Linked DNA regions of Homo sapiens: region 2 is linked to region 1. The links come from fine-mapping of genetic effects on gene expression. Tissue or cell type: nasal epithelium. Region 1 holds a variant in brackets; the other region holds the start of a gene. All regions are shown on one strand. Distances are from middle to middle.

What was found. PIP is the estimated chance that this variant, and not a neighbour inherited with it, causes the effect.
Region 2: VWA3B starts here. The variant in region 1 is fine-mapped to the expression of VWA3B in nasal epithelium (TOPMed, PIP above 0.99).

What each region holds. Positions count from the first base shown.
Region 1 is chr2:98,161,185-98,165,577 of GRCh38, forward strand. VWA3B (von Willebrand factor A domain containing 3B) reads left to right here. Exons shown (of 28, transcript NM_144992.5): 8 at 1,667-1,792. Among named protein-coding and RNA genes, the nearest start is that of VWA3B, 76 kb to the left of the region's middle. RefSeq lists an enhancer at 1,796-2,342. The variant G/T (reference allele first, on the strand shown) is at 1,792.
Region 2 is chr2:98,084,585-98,088,977 of GRCh38, forward strand. It overlaps VWA3B (von Willebrand factor A domain containing 3B), which reads left to right and starts at 2,583. Exons shown (of 28, transcript NM_144992.5): 1 at 2,583-2,779. RefSeq lists enhancers at 2,311-2,811, 2,708-2,777, 2,812-3,312.

The DNA.
Region 1 (4,393 bases):
TGACAGAACATGTCTCAGCCAAGGGGCAGGGACTGCCAGTTGCCACCCAGATACACTCCCTTGCTCCTTAGGCTGTAGCCCCAATTTTACTTAGGGTTGCAGTATACCCAGCCTAAAAGCATTTCTCAATTTCCCTTGCTGCCAGATGGGGCTGCGTGATGCCATTCTGGCAGTGGCTAAGTAATGAAGCTGTGGGGTGGGCCTTCTGGGCAGGGTGCCTCGAAGGAACTGACTCCATCAGGGGGTGTGCTTCTGTGTCCTCCCAGTGGCCCTGCTGCTCAGGACGTGCTGCTTGGCACTAAGGACACCATGTTGAATCATAAGGTGGCTGAAGACAGAAGGATGTGCTGAGATGACCGAGGAGCAGGATAGAAAGAGTGTGGATCTGTTTTCAAGATTTTAAAAATTAACCTTTTTATTTTGAGATAATTATAGATTCACAGGCAGTGGTAATAAGTGATACAGGGAGATGCCCATCTATTATTTATCTATTTATCTATTTATTTATTTATTTCAAGATGGAGTCTCATTCTGTCTCCTGGGCTGGAGTCTCACTCTGTCTCCTGAGCTGGAGTGCAGTGGTGTGATCTCAGCTCACTGCAGCCTCCGCCTCCCCAGTTCAAGTGATTCTCCTGTCTCAGCCTCCTGAGTAGCTGGGATTACAGGCACGGGCCACCACGCTCAGCTAATTTTTGTATTTTTAGTAGAGACGGGGTTTCACCATGTTGGCCAGCCTGGTCTCGAACTCCTGACCTCCATTGATCTGCCCGCCTCGGCCTCCCAAAGTTTTACAGGATTACAGGCGTATGCCACCGTGCCCAGCCTGCCCATCTATTCTTTACCCACTTTCCCCCATAGTAACATAGTACCACAGCATGGCTGGGACCTTGACTTTGATACAGTTAAGGTAGCAGGACAGGACCTCTCACCGTGCACCTCTGCATGGCACACCACAGAGTGCACATCCATTTCCCCCCGGCCCACCCGCCCCAACATCTAGAAACTGCTGATCTGTTAGAGCCTGGATCTCGATGAAGGCAGAGCCTGTATCCCAGCCCTAAACCACTCTCCTTGGCATGAACTTCGATTGATTGAAAGACATAAATATCTAAATTAATGGTGCCATGTCATTTTAAAAAAGTGTTATAGAGTCAAACCTATCCCTTAACTGAGACAGTAGAGGTCCAGAAAAGGAGACCAGGCAATCACTATTACATTGGGGGAAATATTATACCTGTGGTTTCAAAGAAGCAGGACACCTTGGCTACATGGCGAAAGGATTAGGGGTTGTTGCTTTCACAACATTCCATTGCATTTCCCCTCCTCGCAGCGGTGACCCTGGCTTGTGTGAGGTGCTTTTGAATGTTTTTATTCCTATCTTATTTGGGTATTATCAATAATTCATTTTAAATATTCTGGCTGCTACAAACATTTACTTTAGAAGGATTTATTGTATCCTAAAGTCTGCATTTATGATTTCTTGAGATGATATCACTTCCTTGGGGATTTCAGTTCTGATTCTCAGAAAGAGATTAGTGGGGGAAGCGGAATTTGATGTTCAGAAATGTTCCAGAAACTTGGCTGCAATGCGTCAGGCCTGCTAGGCGGGCTGCCACATTCCTGGGCCTGTCTCAGCCGGCCGCTCATGCTGTGTCTCCCCTTTTAGGAGCTGGAGTCAGAGAGGACGTGTTTCTCGTTTGGCAAGAGATGGAGGAAGCCTGCAGCACGCTGGCCCAGATCCAGAGGCTGGTGGCCGAGCCTCCCAAGCCCGACGTGGCCACTGTGGACTGC[G/T]GTTGGTGCTATTTCTGGTCACTGGTGTAAAAGATTCATAAATGTTACTAGCTGGGGACCAGGGGCTGCTTCCATGTTCCTGACCAGAGAAGCTCCAGAGCCCAGCTGCGAGGGGCTGCTGAGGAGAGCAGCCAGAGCTGTGTGGGGTGAGGGGTGGGGAGGGGGCTGAACACACATGCATGGACATGTGTGTGTGTGTGTGCCCACGTGCTCACATGTGTGCATATGTGGAGATTGTCAGTACCCAGAGCTGGACAGTAAAGTGGTAAAAACAGATGCTTGGGCCGGGCGCGGTGGCTCACACCTGTTACCCCAGCACTTTGGGAGGCCGAGGCGGGTGGATCACGAGGTCAGGAGATCGAGACCATCCTGGCCAACATGGTGAAACCCCGTCTCTACTGAAAATACAAAAATTAGCTGGGTGTGGTGGCCCGTGCCTGTAATCCCAGCTACTCAGGAGGCTGAGGCAGGAGAATGGCTTGAACCCGGGAGGCAGAGATCACAGTGAGCCGAGATCGTGCCACTGCACTCCAGCCTAGCAATGGAGAGAGACTCTGTCTCAAAAACAACAACAACAACAACAATAACAATAACAAAACAGATTCTTGACAAACTCTTGTATACTAAGGAAAACCAGACCTCTGTATAAAACTGGGCTCAATTCTGAGTACAACATGGACAAGTGGGGATTCATAGCCAAGGTCAGGGGGACGCCAGTGGATGGAAAATTATTAAGAGGAGATGTTAAGGGCAGGGGGGCTTCTCGCTAAACCAACTTGACAGGATTCTTTCAGGAGAGAGGCCAGTGTGATCAGATGTCGCCTGGGGGACGGTGGGAACGAGGATGTGGATCAGATAGCAAAGCGATCAGATACTGAGGGTGGGGCATTCTGGCTACACTGACTTAGGCTTTTTGCTAAAATCAGGCGATGCAGAGATGAGCATAGAAGTGCAAAGGTTGAGGCCTCGCTGAGAAGAGCATTCAGAGGAGCCTGGCTGAAGGCTGGGCAAGGGGAGACTGTCGAGTTGCCGGTGCTCTTCCAGGGAGGAGGAGCAGGAGAGCTCAGTGATCGGCTCGGCCAGCCTTGACCCTTGCCTGCAGACAAAATCCCATCCACGCTGTCTGTGTCTGTGCAGGCAACCATCTGACTTGCTCTCAGATGCCTACAGGAAGGCCTAAATCAGTTTTCTTTGAGCAGGGTCCAGGACCTTGCGGCAGAAGGGGACACAGGCTGGGGAAAAAGTGTGGAATGTTTACTTGGAAGGAGTAGTGTGAATGGGGGTTTGAGTTATTAATATTAAAAAGAAATTATTAAAATCCAGTTGCATTTCTGATATTCACCTAACACTCTTCTATCTAATTTGGAATAGCCACTTGAAACTTTGGAGTTTGGAAGACTGATTTGCATTCCCTAAATGGTAGTAACAGCAATATGACCACTGAATGGGCACATACTATGTGTCAGGTGCTGCCCTGAGGGGTAGGCCTATATTTAGCTCATTTAAGCCTCATAACTCTATGAGGGAGTTTCTTATTATCTCCAACTGACAGGTGAGGAAACTGAATTACAGAGCGATTAAGTCATTGGCCATGGTCACATAGCTAGCAAACGTAGTCTGATTTTGAACCCAAAATGCAGAACAGCAACTTTCCTGCCTAAACTTTTACAAAAAAATATTAGCAGTGAGGCTGTACTCATCTTGATGTTGGTTTCCATGATTTAATTAGCACCTACCCTATTCTGAGTAAATGAAAGCACTTCTTGGTGTTTGATGGGTTCCAGCCCCACAACTGCACCATACAAACAACCTCACTGCATTTTTACTAGTGAAAGACATTGAGACTACACAAAATATTTTCTCCCTTTTTTTCTTATAAACCAAAGCATTTTTCATAACAATGGACATGAGTTTGGGGGTGAGAAAGACCTGGTTATAAATCCCAGCTCCATCACTAGACCCACCTGAGTTTGTCTCTTTTAGCCTTATTCTTCTGCACAACGACTATCATAATCTTGATGCTGAGGAACCACTGTACAGACAAAATACAATGATGCATGCTCCACACCAAGCAGGGACTTGATGTCAGCGCATTCTTTGCCCTTTCACAATTAGGGGAGTTGGTACACGGATTCTCCTGCATGGCCTTTCCTCTGTAAGGTGCTGGTTTCCTTTGGGGCACACCTGGTGGACGCACATACCTTACACATCAGGCACTGTTTAAGGCTCCTTATGAGCGTTAGCTCATTTCATATTTGCTACAATCTTAAGAGACAGGTGCTACTGCTAGTATTATCTCCGTTTTGGCTTCAGTAACTTGCCCAAGGCTACACAGCTAATGAGATGATGAAGCCTAGATTCAAAACCTAGTCCACCAGTAAAAATACTGATATCTGCTTCCCACCCACCGGACATGTAATCAGGATGTCTGATTAAATCATCCTGATTTAATCCCTATGGGATGACATTGGGACTTTTGAAAGCTCCCCGGGTGATCCTAGTGTGCAGCTAATTTTGGAACCACTGCCAGGCTGCAGTGCCTCCTGGGTTACAGAGGTGCAGAGGGCAGAGGGCAGGGAGGTCAGGCCGGCTGGGAAAGGGA
Region 2 (4,393 bases), 77 kb before region 1:
TGTCCCAAATAATGAATGCTGAACTCAAGAACATCACAGCATAGAGAAACCTCTGTTTGAGCTCTACCTCCCCGTGATGGCCCCTGTCCCCACCTACCTCTCCCAAGGCTGCCCCTGATGGCGAAAACTCCCTTCACCACAAGAGCTAACAAAGGTTCAGCAGGAACTGCCTCACTCTCTCAGTTTCTCCTTCCTCTTCAGAGGGAGTGCCTCTGTTTTAATTCCAGCTCAGGTTCTTTCTCACACATATATACAAGGAGTTAACATTCTCCGTCTCCTCTGGTTCCAGTTTTTGCAGTGGGCTTAGGAAAATGCTTTTCCTCCCTTCATTTCCTTTATCACCCTCCCTCCTCCACCAAACATTCTGATCATGGCCATAAGCCCAAGCAGTGGCAGTGATAGACTTGTATAAAGAAAAGGAAAACCCATTGAACCTGAAAAGTAAACAGCACAAAGGTCAAATAACAACGAAAGGCTTGTCAAAGGCTTGTACATGGTTGCCAAGAGTGTGGTACTGGCAAGCAATGCTTTGAGACTGTACAGGTAGAGAGAAGTTATTAGGGCCGCAGCATCCATGGGAGGGCTTTGGGGAGAGAGAGAAGAGCTAGAGCTGACCCTGAAGGGACGGTGATTCCCAAACTGTGGTAATCTGGGTGGCCTGAGTAAAGTCATCTGTGCTCAGAGGCAGGGACCAGGTGGGTCTCTCTGGGATGGGGGTTTGTGTTGGAGGCAATGAGCAAAAGTCTGAAAGTATAATTTGAGCCCTTAATGGTAAAGTCCAGAAGTTTGACATCAAAGATGGCAGTGATTTGATCAATGTCGCTTACTGAGGTTTAAGGAAAGATACAAATTATCTGTAAAAATGTAAACTCAAAACAAATTTGTCAAAAGTTCAGTATAGTAGTGTATCACCACTGTGCTAAAGGTTTTCTTATTTCAAATAACTCAATAAAAATGAGGCAAACCATTCTGTAACTAGCTAAACTGAAGTCCATACCAACTATTTAATGCTTCAAAATAACCTTAAACTTCTACTCACTTATCATTCTACAATTTAAGTAAGTAATGTTTCACATTTTCAACAGAATGTATGCTTATAGACACATAAACACGAAAGATAGGGACAGATCATCTTGGTGACTTGCACGTATGTGGCAAGTGTCCTAGGGAAAGGAGCAGGCATGGGGTGAAGGTGGGAACAAGAGTGCCTGGCGTGACCATGTGAGGCAGGGCATTTGGCTATGTGTTGCTGTGTGCTCTGTCTCACCCCCGTGACCCAAGAATATTAGTGTGGCAGGGTGTGGACAGCAAGGATTAATGGGTCATTGGCAAACATGGGCGAGGCTGGTGTTTTACTCCCTTCTGAACAGTCTTCAGTACTATCAAGCTTTTGCTTGTTTTTTGGTGGTGTGGATGGCAGGTTTCATTTGCAGGGCCAAATATATATAAACTAATAACTGCCAGGAATGATTTGTGATATGGAATGAAATCTTTCAGTACTTTTTAAATGATAGAGGCATTAAAAGAATGCAGGAGAAATAAATTCCTGTGGATGAAGCAGACTTTTTTTGGGGGGACAGAATTACTCAGTTCTAACATTAACTATGTTTTATTAGTTCTTTGAAAAACCTGCAAATGATCTGGTCAGTTCTATAATTTTAAAATCTAAAATCGTTTACTATCCCAATACCCTAAAAACAATACTTACTGTGGGGTCTTTTATTAAGACTTTAAAGATACTTTTCATAAGCACAATTTTATTTCCTGGTGACTGGAAAAATAGGAAAATATTTAGAGCCTTTTGCTTAATTGATAAGGTAACACTGAAACAAAGGTTAAAAACAAAGCTGAATGGAGAAAATAATGCCTATAGAAATATTCATGTCAAACAGGTAAGAATATTCTTGGCAACTGCAGCCCCTGCCTCCACAATTGCAAAATTGCAGCTCCCTGTCCCTTCTGTCTGTCTCAGCTCCGCCCACGTCCAGTGGCTGAGCTACAACGAACTGCCCCACCTCTTTTAAAGCGTCTTTCTCTGAACTGTGCAAGGAAGAGAGCATCGCCTGACAGTGGTGAGGTGAAAATTAAAACTACACAGGGGTCAATGCTCTGCTGAAAAGTATGAAAAGAAGTTCGTTTGTAGCGTTTCCCGCAGTCTCCTCGCCTCTCCTCGGCCTCTGGCGCCTTCCTCCCCTGTCTGCTCGCACCCTATATTTCTACCCCAGCTCATCAGTGTATTTGTTTGTTAATTCATTCATTCTTTCATTCATATTCTCCGCTGTTGTTAATTTTCCCATTGACAGTAGGCGCAAGGGGCAACGCCACTCGCCCTGTCCCTCTAGCGTGGCCTCTGTTTGGGGGTCTGGGGTGGAGGTCGTCCCGGCCCGGGTGGTTCCGGACGCCGGCTTTCCGCACCTGGCTCGGTGACGGCCTCGGCGCCCCGCCCTCTTGGCCACGGTCCGCAGCCATCGCCCCAGTGAGGGCGCGGTCTGTGGGCGGGGCCGGCTCCAGGAGCCGCGCTGTGATTGGCCGTGTCCAGGCAACCGCGGAGACGCCGTCGTCAACAGACCGCGCTCGGAACCAGAGGCGCGGGTCACAGAGACCTAGAACAGCTGGAATCCTTCGCCCCCGGCGCGCAGCCTTCGCCCGCCGGAATCGCTGCCTTATCCACCAGCGGGATGCTTACCTCGCCCGCCCTCTCGGGTCAGGCGGGCCCGGGAGGATGGGAGGGTGGCTGCTGAGCGGGAGCCGCCACGTCTTCCACCCGACATATTGCCTAGTAAGTGTGGGAGCGATGCCTGCCGCACGAGAGCCGCCGAGGTGCCGAGCCTTCCAACAAGCGGCCTAGGGAGGTCTTGGAAAAATGCCATTTCTGAGGTGGACTACACGCCCACTTTACAGATGCGGAAACAGTACCAGGAAAGCTCGGTGACTTGCCCTGGCCCACTTAATCGTCCGCTACCCAGGGCAAGCCGAGGGTCAAGGTACCGACCCCTCCTACTCTAGAGCTCTTTCCATCACACCTCACCCGAGCCCACGCCCAGCCGCTCTGGTGGAAAAGCGGTTTTCCTAGTTTCTGTCTATGCCATAGGCCAGCAGTTCAAGGTGATGAAGTCCACCTGGGCTTTGGAGGGAACATGGGAACCAGAAGAAACACATTTCCTGAACATAAGGATAAATATGTATAGTCTAAAAGCCAAAGCAACACTTACATGGTTTCACAATCATATCAGTTTCTTTCACCCTCCTTATATGGAAATAAGACTTAATAAGTAGATTTAGTTTCCATTTGGTAGAGCTTTTCCTTTCATTTTCTTGGAAGCTCTGTTTCTTCTCAGCAATGACCTTCCTCCTAAAGCACTCCAATTATTCTCAGATATTGCCTTCTTGACTATTTTCTCAACGGTGGGACAGTCCGTTTCAATATCCTTGTCTCTGTCCACATTATTTGAGCCAATGATCACAGCCAAGCCTTGTCCCTTAAGGGCAGAAAAAATGGGAGGAGGTTTAAGGGTTTCTGGGGAAGAGTTGCATCAGGATCCATCATGAAGCTTCGTCCCAGTTTCCTTTCTTCCTGGAAAAATCATCGTTCACAAATTCACCTAAATCACAAGATATATATCCACCTAGCCCAGACTTCTTTTTCAGAAACTAACAGGGGTATAGGAAGTTTGGGGTGTTGATAATAAAGTAGCTAGAAGCTTATTGAATGTCTAAACTGGATTAATGGACTCTCAACCCTGCACTGTCCCTGAACCTCCGAGCACATAGGACCTTTTCTCTGAGGGCATGCTGACTTCACAAGACTGTCGCCCAGGGCAGCCCAGGAGCATCTGCTTCCAGTAGACGGGGCCCTTGTACAGTTGCCAGCTTAACCTTTCTATTTTCCCCAAAGCTTTGCCTGCCCACATTTTCAGCTCAGACTTTCACTTCCTTGTTTTTCCTTTTACACTTCCTCCTTCTTCTAAGGAAATACTTTCCTATCCAAACTCTATGTATGGTTCTTGGGATGGCCTCTAAAACTTAGGGCAATGCTCAACTCCGGTATGTTGTTGTTTCCGACTTCTGGGTTACTTGGTTCCCCAATTTATAATAACCTCAGCTGAGGAAACTCTGAATAATAGTAAATAAATAAATAAATAGCATAGTTTTATCAGAAAATAATATATCCCCCTTTATTTTTTTTTGAGACAGGGTCTCGCTCTGTCCCCCAGGCTGGAGTGCAGTGGTGCAATCTTGGCTTACTGCAACCTCTGCCCCCTGGGTTCAAGCAATTCTCCTGCCTCAGCCTCCCTAGTAGCTGGGATTACACGTGTGTGTTACCATGCCCGGCTAATTTTTGTATTTTTAGTAGAGACGAGGTTTCACCATGTTGGCCAGGCTGGTCTCAAGC